Regions from separate parts of the Homo sapiens genome. Here regions 1, 3 and 4 are each linked to region 2. The links come from fine-mapping of genetic effects on gene expression. A gene starts in region 2. Each other region holds a variant in brackets. All regions are shown on one strand. Distances are from middle to middle.

Evidence for each region. PIP is the estimated chance that this variant, and not a neighbour inherited with it, causes the effect. A credible set is the group of variants that fine-mapping cannot tell apart.
Region 1: its variant is the best candidate, but not a certain one, in a credible set for the expression of RFX7 in CD8 T cells (Kasela 2017, PIP 0.65).
Region 3: its variant is the best candidate, but not a certain one, in a credible set for the expression of RFX7 in thyroid (GTEx, PIP 0.81).
Region 4: its variant is the best candidate, but not a certain one, in a credible set for the expression of RFX7 in subcutaneous fat (GTEx, PIP 0.55).

The regions. Positions count from the first base shown.
Region 1 is chr15:56,080,084-56,086,337 of GRCh38, reverse strand. No RefSeq gene overlaps it. Among named protein-coding and RNA genes, the nearest start is that of NEDD4, 90 kb to the right of the region's middle. The variant G/C (reference allele first, on the strand shown) is at 3,771.
Region 2 is chr15:56,240,443-56,246,696 of GRCh38, reverse strand. RFX7 (regulatory factor X7) reads left to right here and starts at 2,818. Exons shown (of 10, transcript NM_022841.7): 1 at 2,818-3,252; 2 at 3,410-3,572. The coding sequence starts at 3,412. It overlaps LOC124903569 (laforin-like), which reads left to right and starts at 1,879. Exons shown (of 3, transcript XM_047433428.1): 1 at 1,879-1,963; 2 at 2,518-2,714; 3 at 2,815-3,346. The coding sequence starts at 1,879. The coding sequence ends at 3,264. It also overlaps a transcript of TEX9 not described here. RefSeq lists enhancers at 909-1,554, 1,793-1,842, 1,555-2,200, 2,201-2,846 and silencers at 2,093-2,142, 2,633-2,922, 3,073-3,132, 3,223-3,292.
Region 3 is chr15:56,105,695-56,111,948 of GRCh38, reverse strand. All of the region lies in intron 5 of RFX7 (regulatory factor X7), which reads left to right. Among named protein-coding and RNA genes, the nearest start is that of NEDD4, 120 kb to the right of the region's middle. The variant G/A (reference allele first, on the strand shown) is at 2,856.
Region 4 is chr15:56,145,246-56,151,499 of GRCh38, reverse strand. The region is part of intron 3 of RFX7 (regulatory factor X7); the gene reads left to right. It overlaps LOC124903498 (a long non-coding RNA gene), which reads right to left and starts at 2,095. Exons shown (of 2, transcript XR_007064648.1): 1 at 2,003-2,095. RefSeq lists a silencer at 1,355-1,649. The variant C/T (reference allele first, on the strand shown) is at 2,599.

The DNA.
Region 1 (6,254 bases), 160 kb after region 2:
AGGTAGTCTAAAGCCTGTTTTTCCACTTACAGTTGTCCCTCAGTATCTGGGCAGGGATTGGTTCCAGGATCCCTAGGGATAATGAAATCTGCAGATGCTCCAGTCCCTTACATAAAATGGCAAATGGCATAGCATTTGCATATAGCCTATGCACATCCTCCTGTATACTTTAAGTCATCTATAGATTACTTATAAAACCTAATGCAAGCCAGGCACGGTGGCTCAGGCCTGTAATCCCAGCACTTTAGGAGGCTGAGGCAGGTGGATCACTTGAGGTCAGGAGTTCGAGACCAGCTCGGCCAACATGAGGAAACCCTGTCTCAACTAAAAATACAAAAATTAGCCAGGCATGGTGGTGCACTCCTGTAATCCCAGCTACTTGGGAGGCTGAGGCTGGAGAATTGCTCGTACCCAGGAGGCGGAGGTTGCAGTGAGCCAAGATCGCATCACTGCACTCCAGCCTGGGCAACAAAGAAAGATTCCATCTCAAAAAAAAAAAAAATGCAGTGTAAATACTATGTAAATAGTGGTTATACTTTATTATTTTTATTGGTATATTTTTCTTGTTGTATTATTTATTGGCTTTTTATCCCAAATATTTTCAATCTGTGGTTGGTTCAATCTACAGATGAGGAACCTATGGTATGAAGGGCCAACTGTATTTATAAGCACTTAAACCTCTGCATTAAATCCTTTTCTGTTTAAAATACCTAGAATAAACATTTTCTACACTCCACCCTGACTCATAACATATGCCTATAGGCTAGGAGTCAAGAACATCTTAGATCTGGACCCGGTTCTATCATTCTTCTACCGTCTCTGCACTTTAAGAAATAATGATCCCTGTCCTAGTTACTTCCCAGAATCTTGTGAGTCTCTGTGAAATATGACAATATGTTGTAAACCCTAAGTCTAAGAGGTTATCATTATCATAAATACCTGTGTGAAAGAACAGACATTTATCTGAGAGTGGGAAAAATTATTGTCCTTTTTAGCACTTAAATGTTATATTTTACCTGAAGCCTCCTTCTACCCCCACCACATACACATGTGTCAGAAGGTAAAGTATAAATCCATATTCAGAAAGGCACTGAACTTTGAATTAATGGCAATAAACAAGAAATAAGTGTTAGTAACCATTTTAATTTAAGCCAAGCTATATCTGAGCATATTTGTTTAACATAGATTATTTGAATCACGAGATCTCTTGTATTTGGACTTCACGTGTTTGAAACACACAGTATAAATTTCCTACCACAAACCCATTCCTAGTTAACATATCTCTTTACTGAATCCTTCATAGTCTTAGCTCATCTTCATAACAGTTCTGAGATTGCTGCCTTAAGAAGTACTGGTAATTTCATAATTGATAAGCCAAGTCCCTGTTCGTTTGGTTTCTATGACTTTGTATTCTCATTCACCTTCTACCTCTCAGATCCTTCATTCTTGGACTCTTTCAGGGACCAGCTTCCTCTACCTATTATTTAAATATAAAAATTCTTTGACATTCTGTCATTGGTTCTTCTCTTATTATTCTACTTTCTCTCCCTAGTCATTTCAGAAACTCCTACAGCTCTATTGATGGCCTCCAAATCTAAATTTTCACATTTGACCTCTCTATTTACTTCCAGTCTTAAAATCTAAATGCCCAAACTGACACACCTTCTCTTTTTCTCCAACCTTCTCCGCTTCCTATTTTCTGTTAACAATGTTATCACTGCAGTTACCAGTTGAAAGCTCACACAGCCAGGCATGCTGGCTCACGCCTGTAATCCCAGCACTTTGGGAGGCTGAGGTGGGTGGATCACTTGAGGCCAGGGGTTTGAGACCAGCCTGGCCAACATGGCAAAAACCCATCTCTACTAAAAATACAAAAATTAGCCAGGCATGGTGGTGGGCGCCTGTAATCCCAGCTACTTGGGAGGCTGAGGCAGGAGAATCACTTGAACCCAGGAGGCTGAGGTTGCAGTGAGCCAAAATCACACCACTGCACTCCAGCCTGGGTAACAGAAAAAAAAGAAAAAAGAAAACTCACATGCCCTTTCCTTCACCCTTTCCTCAACATCAAATGAGTTTCTAAGTCCCATACCTTTGAAATACATATCTATTTGTTTCTTCCTTTCCTTCCTGACCCTGCCTTGGTTGATGGATGAATTTCTCATTTGAAATACCAAATTATTTATAACTTCTGTAATAATTTCTGTACAATGCCATCATAGTAGTCCTTAACTCAAAAGCCTTTGATATTCAGAAGTCAATAGCCTTCATAGATATAAGCAATAACTAGTTAGAAGATACAACGCAAGAGAAGATCCTTTATTATTATTTTTTATCATTATTATACTTTAAATTCTATGGTACATGTGCACAACGTGCAGGTTTGTTACATATGTATACATGTGTCATGTTGGTGTGCTGCACCCATTAACTTGTCATCTATATCAGGTATATCTCCTAATGCTATCCCTCCCTCCTTCTGCCACCCCACGACAGGCCCCAGTGTGTGATGTTCCCCACCCTGTGTCCAAGTGTTCTCATTGTTCAAGTCCCGCCTATAAGTCAGAACATGCGGTGTTTGGTTTTCTGTCCTTGAGATAGTTTGCTGAGAATGATGGTTTCCAGCTTCATCCATGTCCCTACAAAGGACATGAACTCGTCATTTTTTATAGCTGCATAGTATTCCATGGTGTATATGTGCCACATTTTCTTAATCCAGTCTATCATTGATGGACATTTGGGTTGGTTCCAAGTCTTTGCTATCGTGAATAGTGCTACAGTAAACATACGTGTGCATGTGTCTTTATAGCAGCATGATTTATAGTCCTTTGGGTATATGCCCAGTAATGGGATGGCTGGGTTAAATGATATTTCTAGTTCTAGATCCTTGAGTAATCACCACACTGTCGAGAAGACCCTTTTTATGCTAATAACAAAAAAGATAAAATATCCAAGCATGAACTTAAGAAATATATAAAATTTATATAAAGAACACCTTTAAAACACTTCTACTGGCTGGGTACAATGTTTCACACCTGTAATCCCAGCACTTTGGGAGGCCGAGGCAGGTGGATCACATGAGGTCAGGAGTTAGAGACCAGCCTGGCCGACATGGTGAAACCCCGTCTCTACTAAAATTATAAAAATTAGCCGGGCACAGTGGTGGGCGCCTGTAATCCCAGCTACTCAGGAGGCTGAGCCAGGAGAATCAATTGAACTCGGGAGGCGGAGGCTGCAGTGAGCCAAGATCATGCCATCACACTCTAGCCTGGGCGACAGAGTGAGACTCCGTCTCAAAAAAAACAAAAGCCTCTTTCACTGAAAGGTCCAAGGTAGACCAGAGCAAATGGAACAGGAAAACGTACTTAGATGAGAAGAGTCAACATCGTAAAGACATCAATGCCCCGTAAGTTAATTAATACATTTAACATGATTCCCACAAAAATGCCAATTCTTTTCTAGAGCTTGGAAAATTGGATATACATTTAAAATGAGAACACAGATAAGTATAGCCCAAAAAATCCGAAAAGAAAGGAGTGTCTGAAGAGCTAGCCCAACAAGGTATTACATATAGCGTCACATGGCAAAAAGGCCCTATAAGTAATGTCAGGCAACAAATGACAAACTAGGAAGAGATATTGCAACTTATATCACATACATACCCCTTTATATTCGTATTAGGGGTAATATCCCTAATATGGAAAGAAGTCCTAAAATGGTGGGAGGCAGAAGGCCAAAATCTAATAGAAAAATGGGTAAAGGATATTAACAGA[G/C]AGCTCACAGAAAAAGAAATGGTCATTGTGTAAGAGGTGTTCAAACCAGAGCAACTCCATCTTGAACATGGACTGGCTGGGTAAAATGAAGCTGAGACCTGCTGGGCCACATTCCCAACAGGTTAGCCATTCATAGCCAAAGGATGTTTACGGTTAAAAGAAATAGGTTAATAATGTTAAAGGAACACGTTAATAATGTTTACTGAATTGACCCAGGACTTAACAGACCCAGGATATAACAGACCCAGGAAATGTCCTGGTGTCCCAATATCTTAAAAACAAAAGCACTTTTAGTTTAAGAATAAGTTTTGCTTTCAACATAATAATATAGATTATCGCAGAAGACAGCAGTTATACAAAGATTAGCAATCTTTTGTGACAAACCCTTGTAGTAGAATACATCTCCCCATGATTTTTTGCTTTGTTATCTTATGTACAAACAAGCATGGCACCTAAGGCGAACATGTTCCTCCTCTTGCTTTTGGGAATACCCTGCTCTGTCTATGGAGTGCTATTCTTTCTTTACTTCAATAAACTTACTTTCACTTTACCCTATGGACTCACCCCTAATTCTTTCTTTCACGAGCCCTCTCTTGGGGTCTGGATCAGGACTCCTTTCCAGTAACACTTAGACATGAAAAAAAAAAATGTTCAGTCTGACTCATAATAAGAGAAATACAATTAAAACTACACCAAGATACCACTTCTCACTTAGGTTGGCGAAAATCTAAGTTTGACACCATCCTCTGTGGGAAACACTGTGAGACACAGGCATTCTATATTGTTTTCTTGCACATTTCCTAGGAATTTTCTAGACAACAAATTTTGGACATCCAAATGACTAGAGAGAAGTCAACCTAAGGACTGGCATTGAGCATTAAATACCTATTGTAAAACTAAGACTACATGAGGTTAAAGAGGAGAGAGTATATACTATGTACTGGACACATCATCTGAAAATGTACATACAACTAAAGAACGTGGAAAGTGCCTATGCAAATAATTTTTTAACTTTTTCAATAAGATGTGTGTTGATAAAATAGGTGATTTCACTGAGACTGTTGTATATGTAATGTAAGACAATGCAAACTAATTGTGTGATATTCTAGTTTTATATTTCTTAGGTCCCTGAGAACCTGGACTCTCAGAAGAAAGGCTATGCCTGTGTAAGAAAGAAGTTTTAAGTAAAAACTCTGCAGTCCTGACTTTGAATTCCAAGTATCAGCATGAACTCATGGAACATCTTGGTGTACAATAGCAAGGAAGCTTCCAAAGACTATAGAGGTCATGTCAAAAAGACTCAAGAGCCAACTTGCAGAAGCTGCCACTGGACACAGATGGGACAATGTAAGCTCAATAAGGATGATAACTTCAGCAGATCAAAACACTTAAAATATGTTTAAGTCTATGAGTTTTAATGATCCTAAAAAATTAACTGCTCACCTTTTGAGGATGATAGGTAACCAACTTATTTTAATTGATAAAGAGAAAGAAACAAATATTTATCCTGCCTTTCCTTTGTGAGCTGGACCACTGGATAACGAAATAATAGATAAGGGGGGATGCTCTAGTTATAAATATTCTAGCATCCCAGCACTTTGGGAGGCCGAGATGGGTAGATTACTTGAGGCCAGAAGTTCAAGACCAGCCTGGTCAGCATGGTGAAACCCCGTCTCTAATAAAAAATACAAAAATTAGCTGGGCGTGTTGGTGTGCACCTGTAACCCCAGCTACTCGGCGGCTGAGGCAGGAGAATTGCTTGAACCTGGGAGGCGGAGGTTGCAGTGAGCCAAGATCGCACCATTGCACTCCAGCCTGGGTGACAAGAGCAAGATTCTGTCTCAAAAAAAGAAAGAAAAAAAGAAAAGAAAAGAAAAGAAAAGGAAAAGAAATATTCTATCTAATGAATGAGGAAGGAATGACATAATGCCATTGAGTGTAATGGCAAAAACCACAATTACTTTTTTTTTTTTTTTTTTGAGACAGAGTCTCACTTTGTTGCCCAGGCTGGAGTGCAGTGGTGCAATCTTGGCTCACTGCAAACCTCTGTCCCTCCAGTTCAAGCAATTCTCCTGCCTCAGCCTCCCGAGTAGCTGGGATTACAGGTGTGTGCCACCAACCCCGGCTAATTTTTGTGTGTTTTTCAGTAGAGATGGGGTTTCACCATGTTGGCCAGGCTGGTCTCAAACTCTTGACCTCTGATGATCCACCCGCCTCAGCCTCCCAAAGTGCTGGGATTACAGGTGTGAGCCATTGCACCCAGCTCAACCGCAATTACTTTTGTGCCAACCTACTAACATTACAGGCAAAGACTTCAGGTCTAAAACACCAAAAGCAATGGCAACAAAAGCCAAAATTGACAAATGAGATCTAATTAAACTAAAGAGCTTCTGCACAGCAAAAGGAATTATCATCAGAGTGAACAAGCAACCTACAGAATGGGAGAATATTTTTGCAATCTATCCATCTGACAAAGGGCTAATA
Region 2 (6,254 bases):
CTTACTACAATGTCTTACCTTATTTACCAGAGAGTCAAAATGATGCTCAGAGAAAATGAGCCACATTGATTCTGGGTCCTTGAGGGTCCTCAGTACAGGGTTGCACAATCAAAGGAACCCACATAATATGAGAAGCACATGGCTACACTCCTGCCTTTATTCAGGGTCCCTGGGTTTGGCTTGAGTCCACACTCAAAATTTTGGGTAACTTCATCAGATTTCTTAATGTCATGATTTTATTCACAGTCTTCTCTGAAGACTGGAACAAAACACCCACTGTACTCCCAGATGTTAAGTGAGTAGTGAGGGCTGCCCCTTTCCTCCCTGAAAGGGTATCTCACTCTGGCAATAAGGTCTCCTCAGTCTGATACTCTCTGCCACCCCTCCCATTGCTGGTCTCCTTCAACTCCCTGTAGGTCCTGGAAGGCCGGAAAAGGTTTACCACCACACTCCGGTCAGCACCGCCGCTAGAGGGCAGCCCGCGGCTGCAGCTTCGTGAGCCCTCTAGTGGCTGCTGGGGTGACCTGGCTCTTTTATGGAACCCATTAAAAACTCTCAGAAGTTGCACTTGGGAAGCCAGCCTGTGTGACACCCGGTAGCGAACTTTTTATAAAACGTCTTGGTTCTCGGCTTCCTTTTCTTAAGGCCTTTGGCAGACCTTAGATACGTTACCCCCTCGATGACTCTCCCACTTCCTAAGGATCTCCCCCTCCCAGGGTGTTGCAACTTGGAGCCATCATTCTCTCTTGGCAAGGCAAAAAATTAGAACCTTGGGGAACTTGGCAACTTTCCTCAACGTGATATAGGGCATACACACACACACGTATATATATACCTACATTCAAGATTTTTCAGCGTAATTCCAGTTTCAGCATAGCTTGCAGGCTCTGGAATTAAACTTCCAGGACTCAAATTTTGGCTCCTGCATTTACTAATTGGGTAATTTTAAGAATGTTAATTAACCTAAGCTTCCATTTCATCTGTAACAGAGGGAGACTAATAATACCTACATTATACACTCTTGGGGAGGAATAACTATGATAATGTATGGAAAGTGCTAGTCTGGCACACAAAGTGTTCAACAAACATTAGCTATTTTTATCCTTCAAAGCTTCTGTCTAGTGCACACCATGTCTATCAATTAGGTCCACAAAAATACTGTCTTTACACACCCACATGAAGATATGTATGCAAAATGAATGTCGTAAACCACCTATAGTTTCCTAAAGTGGCTAAGCTAATAGAGACCTTAGAGTATGGAAAAGGGGGCTCATTTGTGTGATGCAACTCGTGCAATGGGTAGTTGGAGCACAGCGTAATCCAAGAGGCCCCGGGGGCGGGGGGGCGGCTTATTTTGCACACAGGTGTTCTTCCTCCCTGCACCCCCACCCTCAACCCTCACCACGTGCAAGCATTCAGTGTGAGTCTGGGCCTTAAGTCTGTGGGCCAGGAGAGAGGGCACAGTGGACAAAAGCAAGAGGGTTTCAGGCCAAGGCAGGGAACTGAGAACTCAAAGGCCAGGCAACCCAAGCCAATCAGATTCACCATCCACTAGGAGTCTAAAAGGTGGCAGAGCCCCACAGCCCAAAGTCCACACACAGCAGGAAAGTGGCCAGAGGATCTAACAGGTAGAAACCTGATAGACACTCTATCAGAAAAGTTAAAGCTGAAGGGCTCATAACACCCACGGGCCCAAAGAAAGGTCAGTGTGAGCTGAACAGCTGTTCCATTTGGTGCCAGAGGCCTTGGCTGTTGTATTCTACATCCACGCAGCCTCCCTGATCAGCCCCACCTAGAAAAGCCAATTCTTCTGCTCTTAAAGGAGACTGACTTATTTGTGGCAAAGCTATCATTTAGGTATGAATGGGAAGGGGGGGAATGGTGCGGAGTCTGCGGGGGGAGGGCGGGTGTTCAACGGGCTCCAAAGGAAGGAGCTCGTGGCTGACGCCTGAGCCTCCATGTTGTGAGTACTACATGCGTTTCTTTCAGAGGCAGGCAGTGGCCTTGGCTGCAGGGACCCTGACAAGCCGCGACTTGAGCTATGCTTTAGAGCCTGGGTGGAATTGGGAGCGGTATAAAGGAGGGAGGGCATTCCTGGAAAGGGGGTGGGGTGGGGTGGGGAGGTGGAGGGGAACAGCATGAGCAAAGGCACGAAGGAAGAATGAATCTGCTGCGCGTTGAGGATGGCATGGAGACTTCCCTGATTGGAGCCGGGAGTTCTTGCAGGGGGATGGAGGCCGCTATGATTGGATAGTTAAAGTGGGGCCAGATTTGGAGGGCTTTGAATGCCCGACCGAGGAGCACTCAACCCAGCTCCTGACTCGCGATTTCCGTTCAAGACCGAATTACCTAAAGGGTGGTTAATTCCAACGGGTGTTCTTCTTTGGGGGCTTCTGAAAAGTCAGTTTATCGTCTTACCTGCTTCAGTTCTCTTCATTTACTCAGGGAGGAAGTAATCCTCACATGCATGTGCAGGGGAAGGGGGATAATGTTGATTTCTCTTTACTTGCTTTGAAGATGCCTCCCCCGCCCAAATCCCATTTCCACGCCAAATATTATTAAATTTGGTTTCTCCTCCTCCTCCTCACGCAAGTTCTCTTTCTCTCGCCAGCACCTCCCCCACGTTTTCCTGCTCTCCACCAGCCGGGCCGGACTCCTCCCGGCCCCCAGCGGCGCGCTTCCCTGGCCCGCTGGCCCGCGCCGCCCTCCGCGCCGTGCGCCCCCATCCCGGCCCGTCGCGCCCGCGGCCCGCACACCCTGGTCCACGCCCCCCGGCGGAGCGGTAGGTGTTGTGCGGTCTGCGCCGGGCCGCAGTGCGGCTGCGCGCACTGGGCTGCCTCCGGGGCTGGCAGGGCAGCGGCGGCCGCGGCGGCGGCGGGGCCGGGAGCGAGCGGCGGCGGCGGCGGCGGCGTGGGGAGTGGCGTGGAGCGGTGCCTGGGGCTGCAGCAGCACGGGGACCCGGCAGTAGAAAGCCCCGGGGACAAGGAAGGAAGGCTTGGCCGCCAAATCCCTGAGCAACCGTTCTTCTTGGATTTTGGGGGGAGCCTGCCCCCCCCACTTCGTCTTCAAACGCCCCCATCTCACCCCCCCACAGCCCCGGCCGCTGACGGGAGGAGGCGGCGGCGCCAGCGGGGGGCTGAGGGGCGCCGCCATGCCTCTCCCGCGGTGAAGCGCCCCGGCCGTGAGGAGCCGCTGGTCTCCCCGGTGATGTTCCCCAGGCGGCAGGCGAAAGCGACTCACTCGAGCCCTGGGGTAAAGGCCTAGCTTATCCAGCTTCCTTCCTCCTCCTCCTCCTCTTCCCCTCCCCCTCCCCCTCCTCCTCTCCCCCCTTCGTCCTCCCCTCCCGGTCTCTTCCCTCACCCTTCCCCGCGCCCCCATCTTTCCCTCCCTCCCTCCCACCCCTCTGCAGCGATGGCAGAGGAACAACAACAGCCGCCACCACAGCAGCCTGATGCCCATCAGCAGCTTCCCCCCAGCGCCCCCAACTCGGGGGTGGCCCTGCCAGCCCTTGTGCCCGGGCTGCCAGGGACAGAGGCCAGCGCGCTGCAACACAAGATCAAGAACTCCATCTGGTAAGAGGATCCTCCATCGCTCGCGTGAAAAAGCCCAGGCACATTTCTGCTGCAAAGTGGGTGGGGGGCGGCGGGCGGGGGGAGCGGAGGAGGAGGCTGATGCATTCATTGAATGTGGCTTTCCCCAGTCGGGTGCACATTTGTAGGATCTCTGGAGGTGTGCGGACTTTGCATCAATCAGCCCCTGTCTTCTTAGCTAAAAAATGCTTTTACCCCTTCCTCAATTGTGAGTGCAGATAAACAAGTTTTTTGGTTTTATTTTTTCACTCATTGTAACAGAAATATGGGTCGAAATTAAGTCATATTGCATGATGGTGGCATGAATTTGGAACTGGAGAATGTGAAATGTGTTTACTCCTTTTTGCAGCCATAGAAGGAGGAAGAAGTGTATTGTGAATTTTCACCAAACAGATACTGTGCGTAAGAATATTAATATGCAGCACAAAACCTAATGTGTCTCTTCCTTTCAGTTGGGTTAGCTGCTATTTCTGAATGTTTTTGCCTCCCTTATCCTAATATTAAATTTCTTTTTCAGGGAGTTTATTCTTTGCATTGATTGTGAAGAAAGTGCTTTTTTAGTATAAAATATTTTAAGATGGTAGTTTACAACAAAGTGGTTTTTTTTTAAATTAAAATATAGGGAATCAAATGTCTTGCCATTTGTATGTCTTTTTAAAAGAAACCATTGATGGAATATCTTTCGCTATTTTACTTTCTTGTATGAAAATTTCCAATATTTCAGCATTAAACTCCTAAAGTCTAGTGGGAATCTTTTAATAATTAAATACACTAAGTCCATCCACTGTTAGAGCCATTGCAATATTCTTTGAACATGAACTTGCATTGTTTTGTAGGATGCTTCATTAACTGCCTTTTTTAAGTGTAGCAATATTTTTTAAATGGAAAGTAATATTTGGAATTTGGTCTAAGATTGCTTTTAATAGAAGTTTAAAAAGAATTTTATATGGTATTTTAAAAAGCCTTGATTTTGAAAATGGAAATGAAATCTTTGCAGGGCCATCATTGAATATGAGTACTAAAATATCAAAACTCATTTTCTCATTTTGAAAACATATCGTAAAGCAACTGGCGTTGCATGAACAGTATTTGCACATTTTTAAAGTGACAATTTTTAAATACAAGATTTAGGTTAGTTATATAGTAATTTTCATTATTTTCTTGGCATGCATCCATGCCGTCATGATGCTGATATGAAGTAGGTCAGTGCAGGCTTTAATAGTTTCATCAACAGTAGTTGGCAGTTGAGTATCTTGCTTTCAGTTTTAATTTTAAAATGAAGTTTAAATATTTTAAAGGAGAATTTTTTTGGCTTTGACAATAGTCATGTTGTGGCAACTTGAATAGGTCTGATAGATATGATTGGGGTGTGTGTGTGTGTGTGTGACAGAAAGCAGGCTTTATTCTTCAATGGATACCCTCACCCCCTTTTTAAAGCTATAATTTAAAAGAAGAGATGGTGAATATCTTGCTTGCCATCAAGGTTTTCACAAAACCAGTGTGTATGTGTGTGTGTTTTTAACCTCTAGTAACGTGACGTAACTTTGTGTTTCTGAAATCATCATTAAATTGAATTAAGCACCTTGGTTTTACATTCAGATGTGGGAAATCCAAGTTAATGGACTAAAATCTTTTAAGAGAGACAAATTTTAAAAGTTGAATGAGTAATGTATATTTTAATTGATTATGAGAACAAGAGGGGAAAGGAATCTTCACTTTATAGTTTTAAAATAAGTGAGTTGTGGAGGCAACTGACTGAAATGTTTGAATAATGATGATAGTCGAGTGCACTTTTTGGCAAATAATGTGTAAATTTAATTTTTTTTTATATTGGCACATCCATTACAGCCTAACTGCTCTGACTTTAACATGAGAAAAACTTCTGAAGTAGAGTGCACTCCAGTTTTTGGTACTTGCTCTGAAAAAATAATGGGCAGCAAACACGTGAATCCCAAAATATGAAAATTTATATTTTTGTTTTAAAATTGTAATGATACACTTATTGGCATCTAATGATCAACTTTAGAAATCCTATTTGCAAAAATGATTTTTATATACTTAAAATTTCGGAATAAACAACATTTGTAGATAATAAACAAAATTAGTAAATATACTTAATAGTGTCATACCCCCTGCTCCACAAGAATGGATTTATATTATTCATCAAGTGACTATGTAAAATAAAGATATCAAAAGTGAAAACTCCTTTACTACCATATATTCCTAAGAAATAGTATATATGTATTAAATCATTTTTAATAGATGATTGCAGTTAGATATTTCACATTTTTGAGACAATAATATTATTTTACAAATTATTTTATCACCTGATAATATTCTGAGAGACTATCAGTTTTGTACTACTTCCTGAATCATCCTTTGGTGCCATTATTAATGAGAGTTTAAAATTACACTCAAAAGAAATGTGACATTTAAAAATTATCAAATGGGTTTTGCATTTGGTTTATCATAGTTTCTAAATTACTGGGCTTGCATATCACAAACAAGTCTGTACTTGTCCTCCTACTCTACAAATATAAATATAGTATGTGATGTAGGCCTTTGGACAATAAGTTATCAGTTCATAATTTACTCTGTTTATTAAACTGAAATATGGTTTGATAAAAGTATGTGCATTGAAATATCAGGCATTAAATGAGTCTG
Region 3 (6,254 bases), 130 kb after region 2:
GAGACAGGGTTTCACAATATTGGCCAGGCTGGTCTCGACCTCCTGACCTCGTGATCCACCCGCCTCGGCCTCCCAAAGTGCTGGGACTACAGGGATGAGCCACTGCACCTGGCATTAGTGATTCTTAATCCTGGTTGCACATGAGAAATACCTGGAGAACTTTTAGATACACTTGTCTGGATCCAGGTTTTTGCCCTCAGAATTTCTGATTCTGATTCTGATTTAATGGTTTTAGGGTGGGGCCTATGCCCTGGTATTGTTTTTTTGGTTTTTTTTTTTTTTTTTTTGGTTTATTTATTTTTTTATTGATCATTCTTGGGTGTTTCTCGCAGAGGGGGATTTGGCAGGGTCACAGGACAATAGTGGAGGGAAGGTCAGCAGATAAACAAGTGAACAAAGGTCTCTGGTTTTCCTAGGCAGAGGACCCTGCGGCCTTCCTCAGTGTTTGTGTCCCTGGGTACTTGAGATTAGGGAGTGGTGATGACTCTTAACGAGCATGCTGCCTTCAAGCGTCTGTTTAACAAAGCACATCTTGCACCGCCCTTAATCCATTTAACCCTGAGTGGACACAGCACATGTTTCAGAGAGCACCGGGTTGGGGGTAAGGTCACAGATCAACAGGATCCCAAGGAAGAAGAATTTTTCTTAGTACAGAACAAAATGAAAAGTCTCCCATGTCTACCTCTTTCTACACAGACACGGCAACCATCCGATTTCTCAATCTTTTCCCCACCTTTCCCCCCTTTCTATTCCACAAAACCGCCATTGTCATCCTGGCCCGTTCTCAATGAGCTGTTGGGTAAACCTCCCAGACGGGGTGGTGGCCGGGCAGAGGGGCTCCTCACTTCCCAGTAGGGGCGGCCGGGCAGAGGCGCCCCTCACCTCCCGGACAGGGTGGCTGGCCGGGTGGGGGGCTGACCCCCCCACCTCCCTCCCAGACGGGGTGGCTGGCCGGGCGGGGGGCTGACCCCCCCCACCTCCCTCCCGGACGGGGCAGCTGGCCGGGCAGAGGGGCTCCTCACTTCCCAGTAGGGGCGGCAGGGCAGAGGCTCCCCTCACCTCCCGGACGGGGCAGCTGGCCGGGCAGAGGGGCTCCTCACTTCCCAGTAGGGGCGGCAGGGCAGAGGCGCCCCTCACCTCCCGGACAGGGTGGCTGGCCGGGTGGGGGGCTGACCCCCCCACCTCCCTCCCAGACGGGGTGGCTGGCCGGGCGGGGGGCTGACCCCCCCCACCTCCCTCCCGGACGGGGCGGCTGGCCGGGCAGAGGGGCTCCTCACTTCCCAGTAGGGGCGGCCGGGCAGAGGCGCCCCTCACCTCCCGGACAGGGTGGCTGGCCGGGTGGGGGGCTGACCCCCCCACCTCCCTCCCAGACGGGGTGGCTGGCCGGGCGGGGGGCTGACCCCCCCCACCTCCCTCCCGGACGGGGCAGCTGGCCGGGCAGAGGGGCTCCTCACTTCCCAGTAGGGGCGGCAGGGCAGAGGCTCCCCTCGCCTCCCGGATGGGGCGGCTGGCCGGGCGGGGGGCTGACCCCCCCTCCCCCGGACGGGGCGGCTGGCCGGGCGGGGGGCTGACCCCCCCCACCTCCCTCCCGGACGAGGCGGCTGGCCAGGCGGGGGGCTGACCCCCCCCCCACCTCCCTCCCGGACGGGGCGGCTGGCCAGGCGGGGGGCTGACCCCCCCCCACCTCCCTCCCGGACGGGGCGGCTGGCCGGGCAGAGGGGCTCCTCACTTCCCAGTAGGGGCGGCCAGGCAGAGGCTCCCCTCACCTCCTGGACGGGGCGGCTGGCCAGGCGGGGGGCTGACCCCCCCACCTCCCTCCCGGACTGGGCGGCTGGCCGGGCGGGGGGCTGACCCCCCCACCTCCCTCCCAGACGGGGCGGCTGGCTGGGCAGAGGGGCTCCTCATTTTCCAGTAGGGGCGGCCGGGCAGAGGCGCCCCTCGCCTCCCGGACGGGGCGGCTGGCCGGGCAGGGGGCTGATCCCCCCACCTCCCTCCCGGATGGGGCGGCTGGCCAGGCGAGGGTCTGACCCCCCCATCTCCCTCCCGGACGGGGTGGCTGCCGGGCGGAGACACTCCTCACTTCCCAGACGGGGTGGCTGCCGGGCGGAGGGGCTCCTCACTTCTCAGACAGGGCGGCTGCTGGGCGGAGGGGCTCCTCACTTCTCAGACAGGGCGGTTGCCAGGCAGAGGGTCTCCTCACTTCTCAGACGGGGCGGCCGGGCAGAGACGCTCCTCACATCCCGGACGGGGCGACAGGGCAGAGGCGCTCCCCGCATCTCAGACGATGGGCGGCCGGACAGAGACGCTCCTCACTTCCTAGATGGGATGGCGGCAGGGAAGAGGCGCTCCTCACTTCCTAGATGGGATGGCGGCTGGGCAGAGACGCTCCTCACTTTCCAGACTGGGCAGCCAGGCAGAGGGGCTCCTCACATCCCAGACGATGGGCGGCCAGGCAGAGACGCTCCTCACCTCCCAGACCGGGTGGCGGCCAGGCAGAGGCTGCAATCTCGGCACTTTGGGAGGCCAAGGCAGGCTGCTGGGAGGTGGATGTTGTAGCGAGCCGAGATCACGCCACTGCACTCCAGCCTGGGCACCAATGAGCACTGAGTGAAGGAGACTCCGTCTGCAATCCCGGCACCTCGGGAGGCCGAGGCTGGCGGATCACTCGCGGTTAGGAGCTGGAGACCAGCCTGGCCAACACAGCGAAACCCCGTCTCCACCCAAAAAATACGAAAACCAGTCAGGCGTGGCGGCGCGCGCCTGCAATCGCAGGCACTCGGCAGGCTGAGGCAGGAGAATCAGGCAGGGAGGTTGCAGTGAGCCGAGATGGCAGCAGTACAGTCCAGCTTCGGCTC[G/A]GCATCAGAGGGAGACCGTGGAAAGAGGGAGAGGGAGAGGCAGAGGGAGTGGGAGAGGGAGAGGGAGAGGGAGAAGGTTTGTAGTTCTTGAAGAGGTCCTTCACTTCCCTTGTTAGCTGTATTGCTAGGTATTTTATTCTCTGTAGCAGTTGTGATTGGGAGTTCATTCATGATTTGGCTCTCTGCTTGTCTATTGATGTATAGGAATGCTTGTGATTTTTGCATATAGATTTTGTATTCTGAGACTTTGCTGAAGTTGCTTATCAGTTTAAAGAGTTTTTGGGCTGAGACAATAGGGTTTTCTAAATATAGGATCATGTTGTCTACAGACAGAGACAGTTTGACTTTGTCTCTTCCTATTTAAATATCCTTTCTTTCTTTCTCTTGCCTGATTGCCCTGGCCAGAACTTCCAGTACTATGTTGAATAGGAGTGGTAAGAGTACATTCTTGTCTTGTGCCGGTTTTCAAAAGGAATGCTTCCAGCTTTTGCCCATTCAGTATGATATTGGCTGTGTTTGTCATAAATAACTCTTATTATTTTGAGATATGTTCCATCAATACCTAGTTTATTGAGAGTTTCTAACATAAAGGGATATTGCATTTTTTCGAAGGCCTTTTCTGCATTTATTGAGAGAATCATGTGGTTTTTGTCATTGGTTCTGTTTATGTGATGGATGACATTTATTGATTTACATATGTTGAACCAACCTTGCTTCCCAGGGATGAAGCTGACTTGATGGTGGTGGATAAGCTTTTTGATATGCTGCTGGATTCAGTTTGCCAGTATTTTATTGAGGATTTTTGCATTGATGTTCGTCAGGGATACTGGCCTGAAGTTTTTTGTTGTGTCTCTGCCAGGATTTGGTATCAGGATGATGCTGGCCTCATAAAATGAGTTAGGGAGGAGTCCTTCCTTTTCAATTATTTGGGATAGTTTCAGAAGGAATGGTACCAGCTCCTCTTTGTACCTCTGGTAGAATTTGGCTTTGAGTCCATCTGGTCCTGGGCTTTTTTTGGTTGGTAGGCTATTTATTACTGCCTCAATTTCAGAACGTGTTATTGGTCTATTCAAAAATTCAACTTCTTCCTGGTTTAGTCTTGGGAGGGTGTATGTGTCCAGGAATTTTTCCATTTCTTCTAGATTTTCTAGTTTATTTGCGTAGAGGTGTTTATAGTATTCTCTGATGGTAGTTGTATTTCTGTGGGATCAGTGGCGATATCCCCTGTATCATTTTTTATTGGTTTATTATCATTTTTTATTGTTTTATCTGTGGGATCAGTGGCGATATCGCCTGCATCATTTTTTATTGCTATTTGATTCTTCTTTATTCATTCAGTATGCTTATAGTTATCAATTAGCAATAAAAATACCTCATCTGTTAAATAAAGGGATTAGTGCACCTCTCTGTGCAAGTTCCTCATCTATAAAATATGTTTAATAAAACTACCTGTCTTAAGGTTGTTGAGAGGATTAAATGATTTAACACAAAGAAAGCACTCAAAAAATGTCAGGTATGGTTAGGTATCCCATGACTATATTTTACCACAAGTCTTTTGTGATTCATTGTTTATATTTTTGTACCATTAAACAATGTTTACCTTTAACTTGTACAATTAAATTTGTGACATGAATGAATATTAAAGACTGAATTGTTACCATGGATTTTGAGTGATGTGTTCATAGTCATATTGAATATTAGGCTTAATTTCAGGCTTAAAAATGTACTTTTAAACAAGGAGCAAGAGAAAAAAAAAAACAATTCTTTCTTCTTTTTTTTTTTTTTTTTTTTTTTTTTGAGACGGAGTCTTGCTCTACTGCCCAGGCTGGAGTGCAGTGGCGCGATCTCGGCCCACTGCAAGCTCCGCCTCCTGGGTTCACGCCATTCTCCTGCCTCAGCCTCCCGAGTAACTGGGACTACAGGCGCCTGCCACCACGCCCAGCTAATTTTTTGTATTTTTAGTAGAGGCAGGGTTTCACCGTGTTAGCCAGGATGGTCTCGATCTCCTGACCTTGTGATCTGCCTGCCTCGGCCTCCCAAAGTGATGGGATTACGGGTGTGAAATTATTTCATTTTTAAAATGACATTAGAGTGTTAGTGATCGCGTAAACAGAACATTCTCCGTTCCTCACCCTTTTTTGAGTCTTGCAAAGTATAATCTGACACTGAGTTAAGAGTCAATTGACACTGTATCTTGCTTGGTCAACCTGCAGTTAACGTTGTGAAGCAGGAAAATGAGATGTAAACTAACCAAGATCTCCACATGGCCTGGAATGACCAATGGTTTGTTATATAGGACAAAATTGAATAAATATTATGTAAGTACTTACTAAATTAGATTTTTAAAAGAATCATTGAATATCTAGATTTTTCTTAATGGGGAAAGGTGTCCTATTGAAATTCTTTTTCTTTAAAAATTACAACCACTAGAAATTGGATAAGGCCACCTCACAATAAAGAGTCCTCCCCATCAAAGAAGGGTTCGTGTTGAGGTAACCCATCATTTAAGAGTATGACCATTTCTACATCTGGCAGGAAGTTGAACTATACAACTTCTGATTTATTTTTTCAATTCTAACATTTCACAAAATTAAAGAAATTGAGAACCTATTCTAGGTATTGTTCTTGTTGTTTTTACATTGATGCCCTCTTTATTTTCTGTTTGAAATGAGTTATCAAAGCATAAAGTTTTGAATCATAGGCAGTTTTCTTCTGACATGATTCAGGAGGAATAATTTGAGCTATTTATGTCTACAAAGTACTTTTAATATTTATCCACCAGAGTATTCGACAATGAGGTTGTTATATCCTTCCAAGAGGTAGAATAAGTATCAAAAACCAGATGGAATTGGATGATTTTGTGAAATAACCACACAATATAAATTGTATTGAAAAACAAATTTGGCATTGGTCATCTGTATACCAAGAAAGACAAGAAACTTTTTATCTGAGGAACGTGAGCTCTTTTAAATTACTGGGCCCAGTGAGGCATTAAAATGTGAAAGTAGTCATCTCTCACTCCCCTCTTTGAGCTAAGTAATCTGCCTGCTGTATGGACTTTAGACTGTCACCACCAAGTAACCATAAACTAACCTAACAATGCCATATGCTAGACACCATAATTCATACCCTATAGTTCAACAATGTATAGCAATTACTAATCAGTTATTTCTCTACACCAATGAGAATTCTTAACAAACAATTTTTGTAATTGCCCCCTCTCCTAATTTGTCCTTTTTTCTTTAAAAACATGAGCCTTTCCTTCATTCTCTGGAGCACTTCTCAGCATTTCCCAGTCTGCAGTCCTCAACCTTGACCCAAATAAACTAAACTACTATATTAATTTTGCTCACTTTATGTCTTTAGGTCGATGATACTTAACATTACTTCTTTTGCCAA
Region 4 (6,254 bases), 95 kb after region 2:
TGTCTGTAAAGGATTTTATTTCTCCTTCACTTATGAAGCTTAGTTTGGCTGAATATGAAATTCTGGGTTGAAAATTCTTTTCTTTAAGAATGTTGAATATTGGCTCCCACTCTCTTCTGGCTTGTAGGGTTTCTGCCGAGAGAGCTGCTGTTAGTCTGATGGGCTTCCCTTTGTGGGTAACCTGACCTTTCTGTCTGGCTGCCCTTACCATTTTTTATTTCATTTCAACCTTGGTGAATCTGACGATTATGTGTCTTGGGGTTGCTCTTCTCGAGGAGTATCTTTGTGGTGGTCTCTGTATTTCCTAAATTTGAATGTTGGCCTGTCTTGCTCGGTTGGAGAAGTTCTGGATAATATCCTGAAGAGTGTTTTCCAACTTAGTTCCATTCTCCCTGTCACTTTCAGGTATACCAATCAAATGTAGATTTGGTCTTTTCACGTAGTCCCATATTTCTTGGAGGCTTGACTCGTACCTTTTTTTTTTCCCTCTAATCTTGTCTTCTCGCTTTATTTCATTAAGTTGATCTTCAGCTGATATCCTTTCTTCTGGTTGATCGATTTGGCTATTAATACTTGTGTATGCTACACGAAGTTCTCGTGCTGTGTTTTTCAGCTCCATCAGGTCATTTATGTTCTTCTCTACCTTGGTTATTCTAGTTAGCAATTCAACTAACCTTTTTTCAAGGTTATTAGCTTCCTTGCATTGGGTTAGAACCTGGTGCTTTAGCTCAAAGTTGTTCGTTATTACCCACCTTCTGAAGCCTACTTTTGTCAGTTCTTCAAACTCATTCTGCATCCAATTTTGTTCCCTTGCTGGCGAGGGGTTGTGATCCTTTGGAGGAGGAAAGGCGTTCTGGTTTTTGGAATTGTTAGCCGTTTTGCGTTGGTTTTCCCTCATCTTTGTGGATTTATCTACCTTTTGTCTTTGATGTTGGTGACCTTCCAGTGGGGTCTTTGAGTGGATGTGTTAACTCCCGACCCTGTTTGTCTGGGTATCACCAGCGGAGGCTGCAGAGCAGCAATGATTGCTGCCTGTTGTTTCCTCTGGAAGCTGCGACCCAGCGGAGCACCTGCCAGATGCCAGCCAGAGCTCTCCTGTATGAGGTGTCTGTCGGCCCCATCTGGGAGGTGTCTCCTAGTCAGTATACACAGGGGTCAGGGACCCACTTGAGGAGACAGACTGAGCCTTAGCAGAGCTGGAACGCTGCACTGGGAGTTCTGCTGCTCTCTTCAGAGCCATCAGGCAGGGATGTTTAAGTCTGCTATAAGCCACTGACTGGGGCTGCTGCCTGTTTTACAGAGATGCCCTGTCCAGAGAGGGGCAATCAGGCAGTCTGGCCACCGCAGCCTTGCTGAGCTGCAGTGGGCTCCACCCAGTTTGAACTTCCCAGCAGCTTTGTTTATCCTGTGGCTGTGAAACTGCCTACTCAAGCTTCAGCAATGGCCGACCCCCCCGCCCCACCCCGCAACCCCCCGACCAAGGTCGACTGTCTCAGGTGCATCTCAGATTGCTGCTGTGCTGGCAGCGAGAATTTCAAGCCAGCGGATCTTAGTTTCCTGGGCTCCGTGGGAGTGGGACCCGCTGAGCCAGACCACTTGACTCCCTGGCTTCAGCGCCCCTTTCCAGGGGAGTAAATGGTTCTGTCTTAGTGGCATTCCACATGCCACTGGGGTATGGCAAAGAAGAAAAAAAAAAAAGCTCCTGCATCTAGTTCGGTGTCTGCCCAATTGGCCAGCCAGTTCTGTGCTTGAAACCCAGGGCCCTGGTAGGGTAGTCACCAGAGGGAATCTCCTGGTTTGTGGGTTACGAAGACCATGGGACAAGCGCAGTGTCTGTGCTGGAGTTCTTCAGGCTCAGTCCCTCACAGCTTCCCTTGGGTAGGGGGGAAAATTCCCCGACACCTTGTGCTTCCCAGGTGAAGTGACGCCCCACCCTGCTTCGCCTCGCCCTCCGTGGGCTGCACACACATTCCAACCAGTCCCAGTGAGATGAACCAGGTACCTCAGTTGGAAGTGCAGAAATCACCCGCCTTCTGCATCAATCTCGCTGGGAATTGCAGACCGGTGCTGTTCCTGTCTGTTTCCACATTTTTATCTGCATATGTAAAAAGGATCCTTCAGTTTCCTCAAAGGTGCTAGAGGAAAGAGTCTAATTTTTATATTAATCAGGATGGGCTAATCTATGATGTTGTAACTAAGCCTGAAATACCAGTGGCCTAACCACAAAAATGTATTTTCATTCACATCATATGCAGCAGAAATCACTGAAGACCACTGTTCCAAATAATCCCTCAGAACCAACATTGACAGGAAGGCTGACATGTTATAGCTTCACCAGTGCAACACATGGCTTCCAAGGTGCCACAGAGGGGGAAATGGGATGGGGTGACACATTGATTTTTTTTTTTTTTTTTTTTGAGACGGAGTCTCGCTCTGTCGCTGAGGCTGGAGTGCAGTGGCGCAATCTCAGCTCACTGCAAGCTCCGCCTTCCGGGTTCACACCATTCTCCTGCCTCAGCCTCCCGAGTAGCTGGGACTACAGGCTCCCACCACCACGCCTGGCTAATTTTCTTTGTATTTTTAGTAGAGATGGGGTTT[C/T]ACCGTGTTAGCCAGGATGGTCTCAATCTCCTGACTTCATGATCCGCCCACCTCAGCCTCCCAAAGTTCTGGGATTACAGGCTTGAGCCACTGCCCCCGGCCGACACATTGATTCTTAACTGTCAGCTGAGTAGTGAATTACATCACTGTGATCAGATTCATAATAATCACATGACTACAAGCTAACTGCAAAGTGGACTGAGAAATGTAGGTGAGCAGATGGAATACTGTCTCTGTCCCATGTTTTCTTCACCTCTACACTTGCACCTCATAGAAAGAATTAGCTTCATGTTACTAGTTCTTATGTCAGTATTTTTTGTCAACCAAAGTTTTAGAAGGGAAGGGGGTTGCGTGGCAGGATTCAAACACCAAAGTCCACCTTCAACCTCCAAAAGCAACTTGATCTTACACTATGCCTTCATTTTCCCCTTGATCACATAATATAAAAATGAATGTTGAATCTGATTGTTTGCTACAGGCTTTTCTGTCCAGAATGTGAAAGGTCAAAGTACCATCTCAATCGTCATTAAGTTTGTAGCATTGTTGTGCTTTCATAGCTAAAAGTTCAGAAAAACCGTCTTCATAAATCTTTGCTTATGAAAATGGGATGATGACATGCAAGGTCGGCTCACTTGCTGGAAATAACCAAGGATATTTTTTGAAAATTCTCCAAAATTGTTTCCTGGAATGTGTTTGACATATAAATCAAACTTGAGTTCAAAGATTCCTTTTTAATATCTTTTTGCAAAGATTGAAGTGCATGAGAAAGAGGTCTTTTAAGTTTTCAGGCAAGATCTTCAACTGCAATAGTATGAAATTATCAGCTACCTCATTCAAAAGACTTGAATAATATTTGAGGTTCTGCCTAAATTTGAAACCGTTTTCACTAGCTTTTCTTTGAGAACTTCTTCAACTCAAGTAAGTGAAGACTTTTAAGTCTACAAATGTTGTTTGTCATTTAAGTTTCACTTCGAATCATCAGATATGTTTTCCAAATGTGCAAATCTCTGTTAAAAATTAGAGTTTTTAGGCTGGGCATGGTGGCTCACGCCTGTAATCCCAGCACTTTGGGAGGCCAAGGCAGGCGGATCATGAGGTCAGGAGATCGAGACCATCCTCGCTAACACGGTGAAACCCTGTGTCTACTAAAAATGCAAAAAATTGGCTGGGCCTGGTGGCGGGTGCCAGTAGTCCCAGCTGCTCGGAAGGCTGAGTCAGGAGAATGGTGTGAACCCGGGGGGCGGAGCTTGCAGTGAGCTGAGATTGCACCACTGCACTCCAGCCTGGGCGACACAGCAAGACTCCACCTCAAAAAAAAAAAAATTAGATTTTTTATTGTAGTAAAATATACATAGCATAAAATTTACCATTAGTGATATTTAGTACATTAACTGTGTTGTACAAGTACCATCTGAATCTAGTTTCAAAACCTTTTCCTCACCCCAAAAGGAAACTCAGTACCCTTTAAGCAGTCATCTGCCTCTGGGAAACACTAAGCTGCTTTCTGTCCCTAGGGATTTGCCTATTTTGGATATTTAATATAAACAGAATCACATGATATGTGTCTGGCTTCTTTCACTTAGCACGATGTTTTCAAGGTTCATCCATGTTGTAGCATGTATCAGTACTCCATTCCTTTTATGGCTAAATAAAAAATTATAATTTTTAAAGTTTATGAAGTTGGTCTTTTCTCTGGTGCTCCAAAAATAGAATACCATTATGATTTATTTTATAAATCCAGCCAAAGGAATTTTTTTTGACCACCAACGAATTTCAACATAGAACAGAAAACTTTTAATTCTTATCATTTAAATTGTCATAAAGCATATCAAATAATCAGATGTTTAACATACTTGCCACATGATACTCTTGCCTTGACAATCAAGCAAGGTTAGGGTCTTCTCCTAAACCAGTGAGCATTGTTTCAGAAGCCACTAATTAGCAGTGGATGACACAGTATATCCAAAACCAGAAATCTTGATGATGAGCCCAGCCTTGCTGGACTGAAATGCCATCACTATACACTTGAGTCATTTTTTTTGTTTGCTTTATAGAATTTTGTTATTATCAGTTTTCATGCTGCTCTCCAAATTTTTTCTTCTATGTGTTGTACCCCATATGGCAATGAAAACAGTAATTGAACAGTTACAAGTTTTCATTGTTTTAAAAAAAATTAGGACACTGACTTTAATCTTTTTCAAAACTTTTTTTTGCCATCTTCTAAATCATCTCTTTGGTGCTTAATACTAATTTAGAACATCTTCTGAAATTTCTTCTATGTTCTGGAATTTCTTTTCTATTCTTTTTTCCAGTATATTTAAAATTTGAAAGCTATATAGAATCCAAGGTTTCTCCAACAGTAGATTTTTTTCTTTATGATCAAAAATGATATTTTTATTACACTTTCTCAGACATGGCTCATAATATTAGGTATTTTATTATTATAACCTTCTCTTAATTTAATATGATTGGCATTGGTGTGATTAAGTGGGTGATGTTAATAATATTTGACAGTAGTTCATACCTAGCATCCCAGCACTTTGGGAGGCAGGAGGATCACTTGAGGCCAGGCAGGAATTCCAGACCAGCCTAGGCAACAATTTTGTAGCAACAAGCTACAAAAAATAAATTAAAAAATTATGTGGCTGTGGTGGCACGCACCTCTGGCCCCAACTACTTGGGAGGCTGAGGTGGGATGATCAGTTGAGCCCAGGAGTTTGAGGCTGCAGTGAGCTATGATTAAGCCACTGCAATTCAATCTGGGCAACAGAGTGAGACTCTCTTAAAAAAAACAATTTGACAAAAAAAAATTTCAGGAACCATATTTAAGACATTAAAGTGGGGTGACATCGGAGGTAGGAAAACCAGCTGGTTAGACATTTTAGAAATTTAAGTGTCATTAAAAGTTCATTAAGGGCAAGAACTGTGGTGGTGGTGTGTTGTTCATCTTTGTTGTATTGTTCACTCTTTGTATGATTTGTGATACATAGTATAGGTTCATAGTTATTTTATGCCACTTGTGGAACATAGCAGAAAACAAAAGTAATGCATAAGCAAACGAATTATCCTTATTCTTGAAAGAAAGACAGCTGAAGACCTAGACTACTGTGGTGGCAGTGAAAAATCGAGACTGGAAGAAGATGGGGCAGAGTGTTAGAGGGCTAAATAAAGGATTAATGTGGAATGCACCAAGAGAAAAAGAGTTAAACACACTCCCAAACTGAACACTGTGGAAACTAGAGAAAAGAAGGTGATGATAAGTAGCAATTAAGAAGAGAATGTGTGTTTGTTTTCTTTGAGGGGAGAGCTACACAAGGGTATAGCTGATAACATTAGGTATTGGAGCAAGAGCCAATTGGAAAATACCTGTAGGCCATGGGATTTTAAAAATGTAAATTTGGGAGCTATTTGCATGTGATTGATTAAATCATTATGTGGATGGATTCTAAGATTAAACTTTTGTGGATATCTTCTGATAAGACTAAGAATAGGCTTGGTTATATCATGTTAAGTATTTTCAAAAACTGAATCTCTGTTTAAACTGTGCTTTATTAAGTAAGAATAAATTCTACCAGGAATGCCAGTAATCTGTCCACATTTTTCATTGCAATGGAATTTTGCTTAGATTAGGCTACCAGAATTTTACTATGAATATT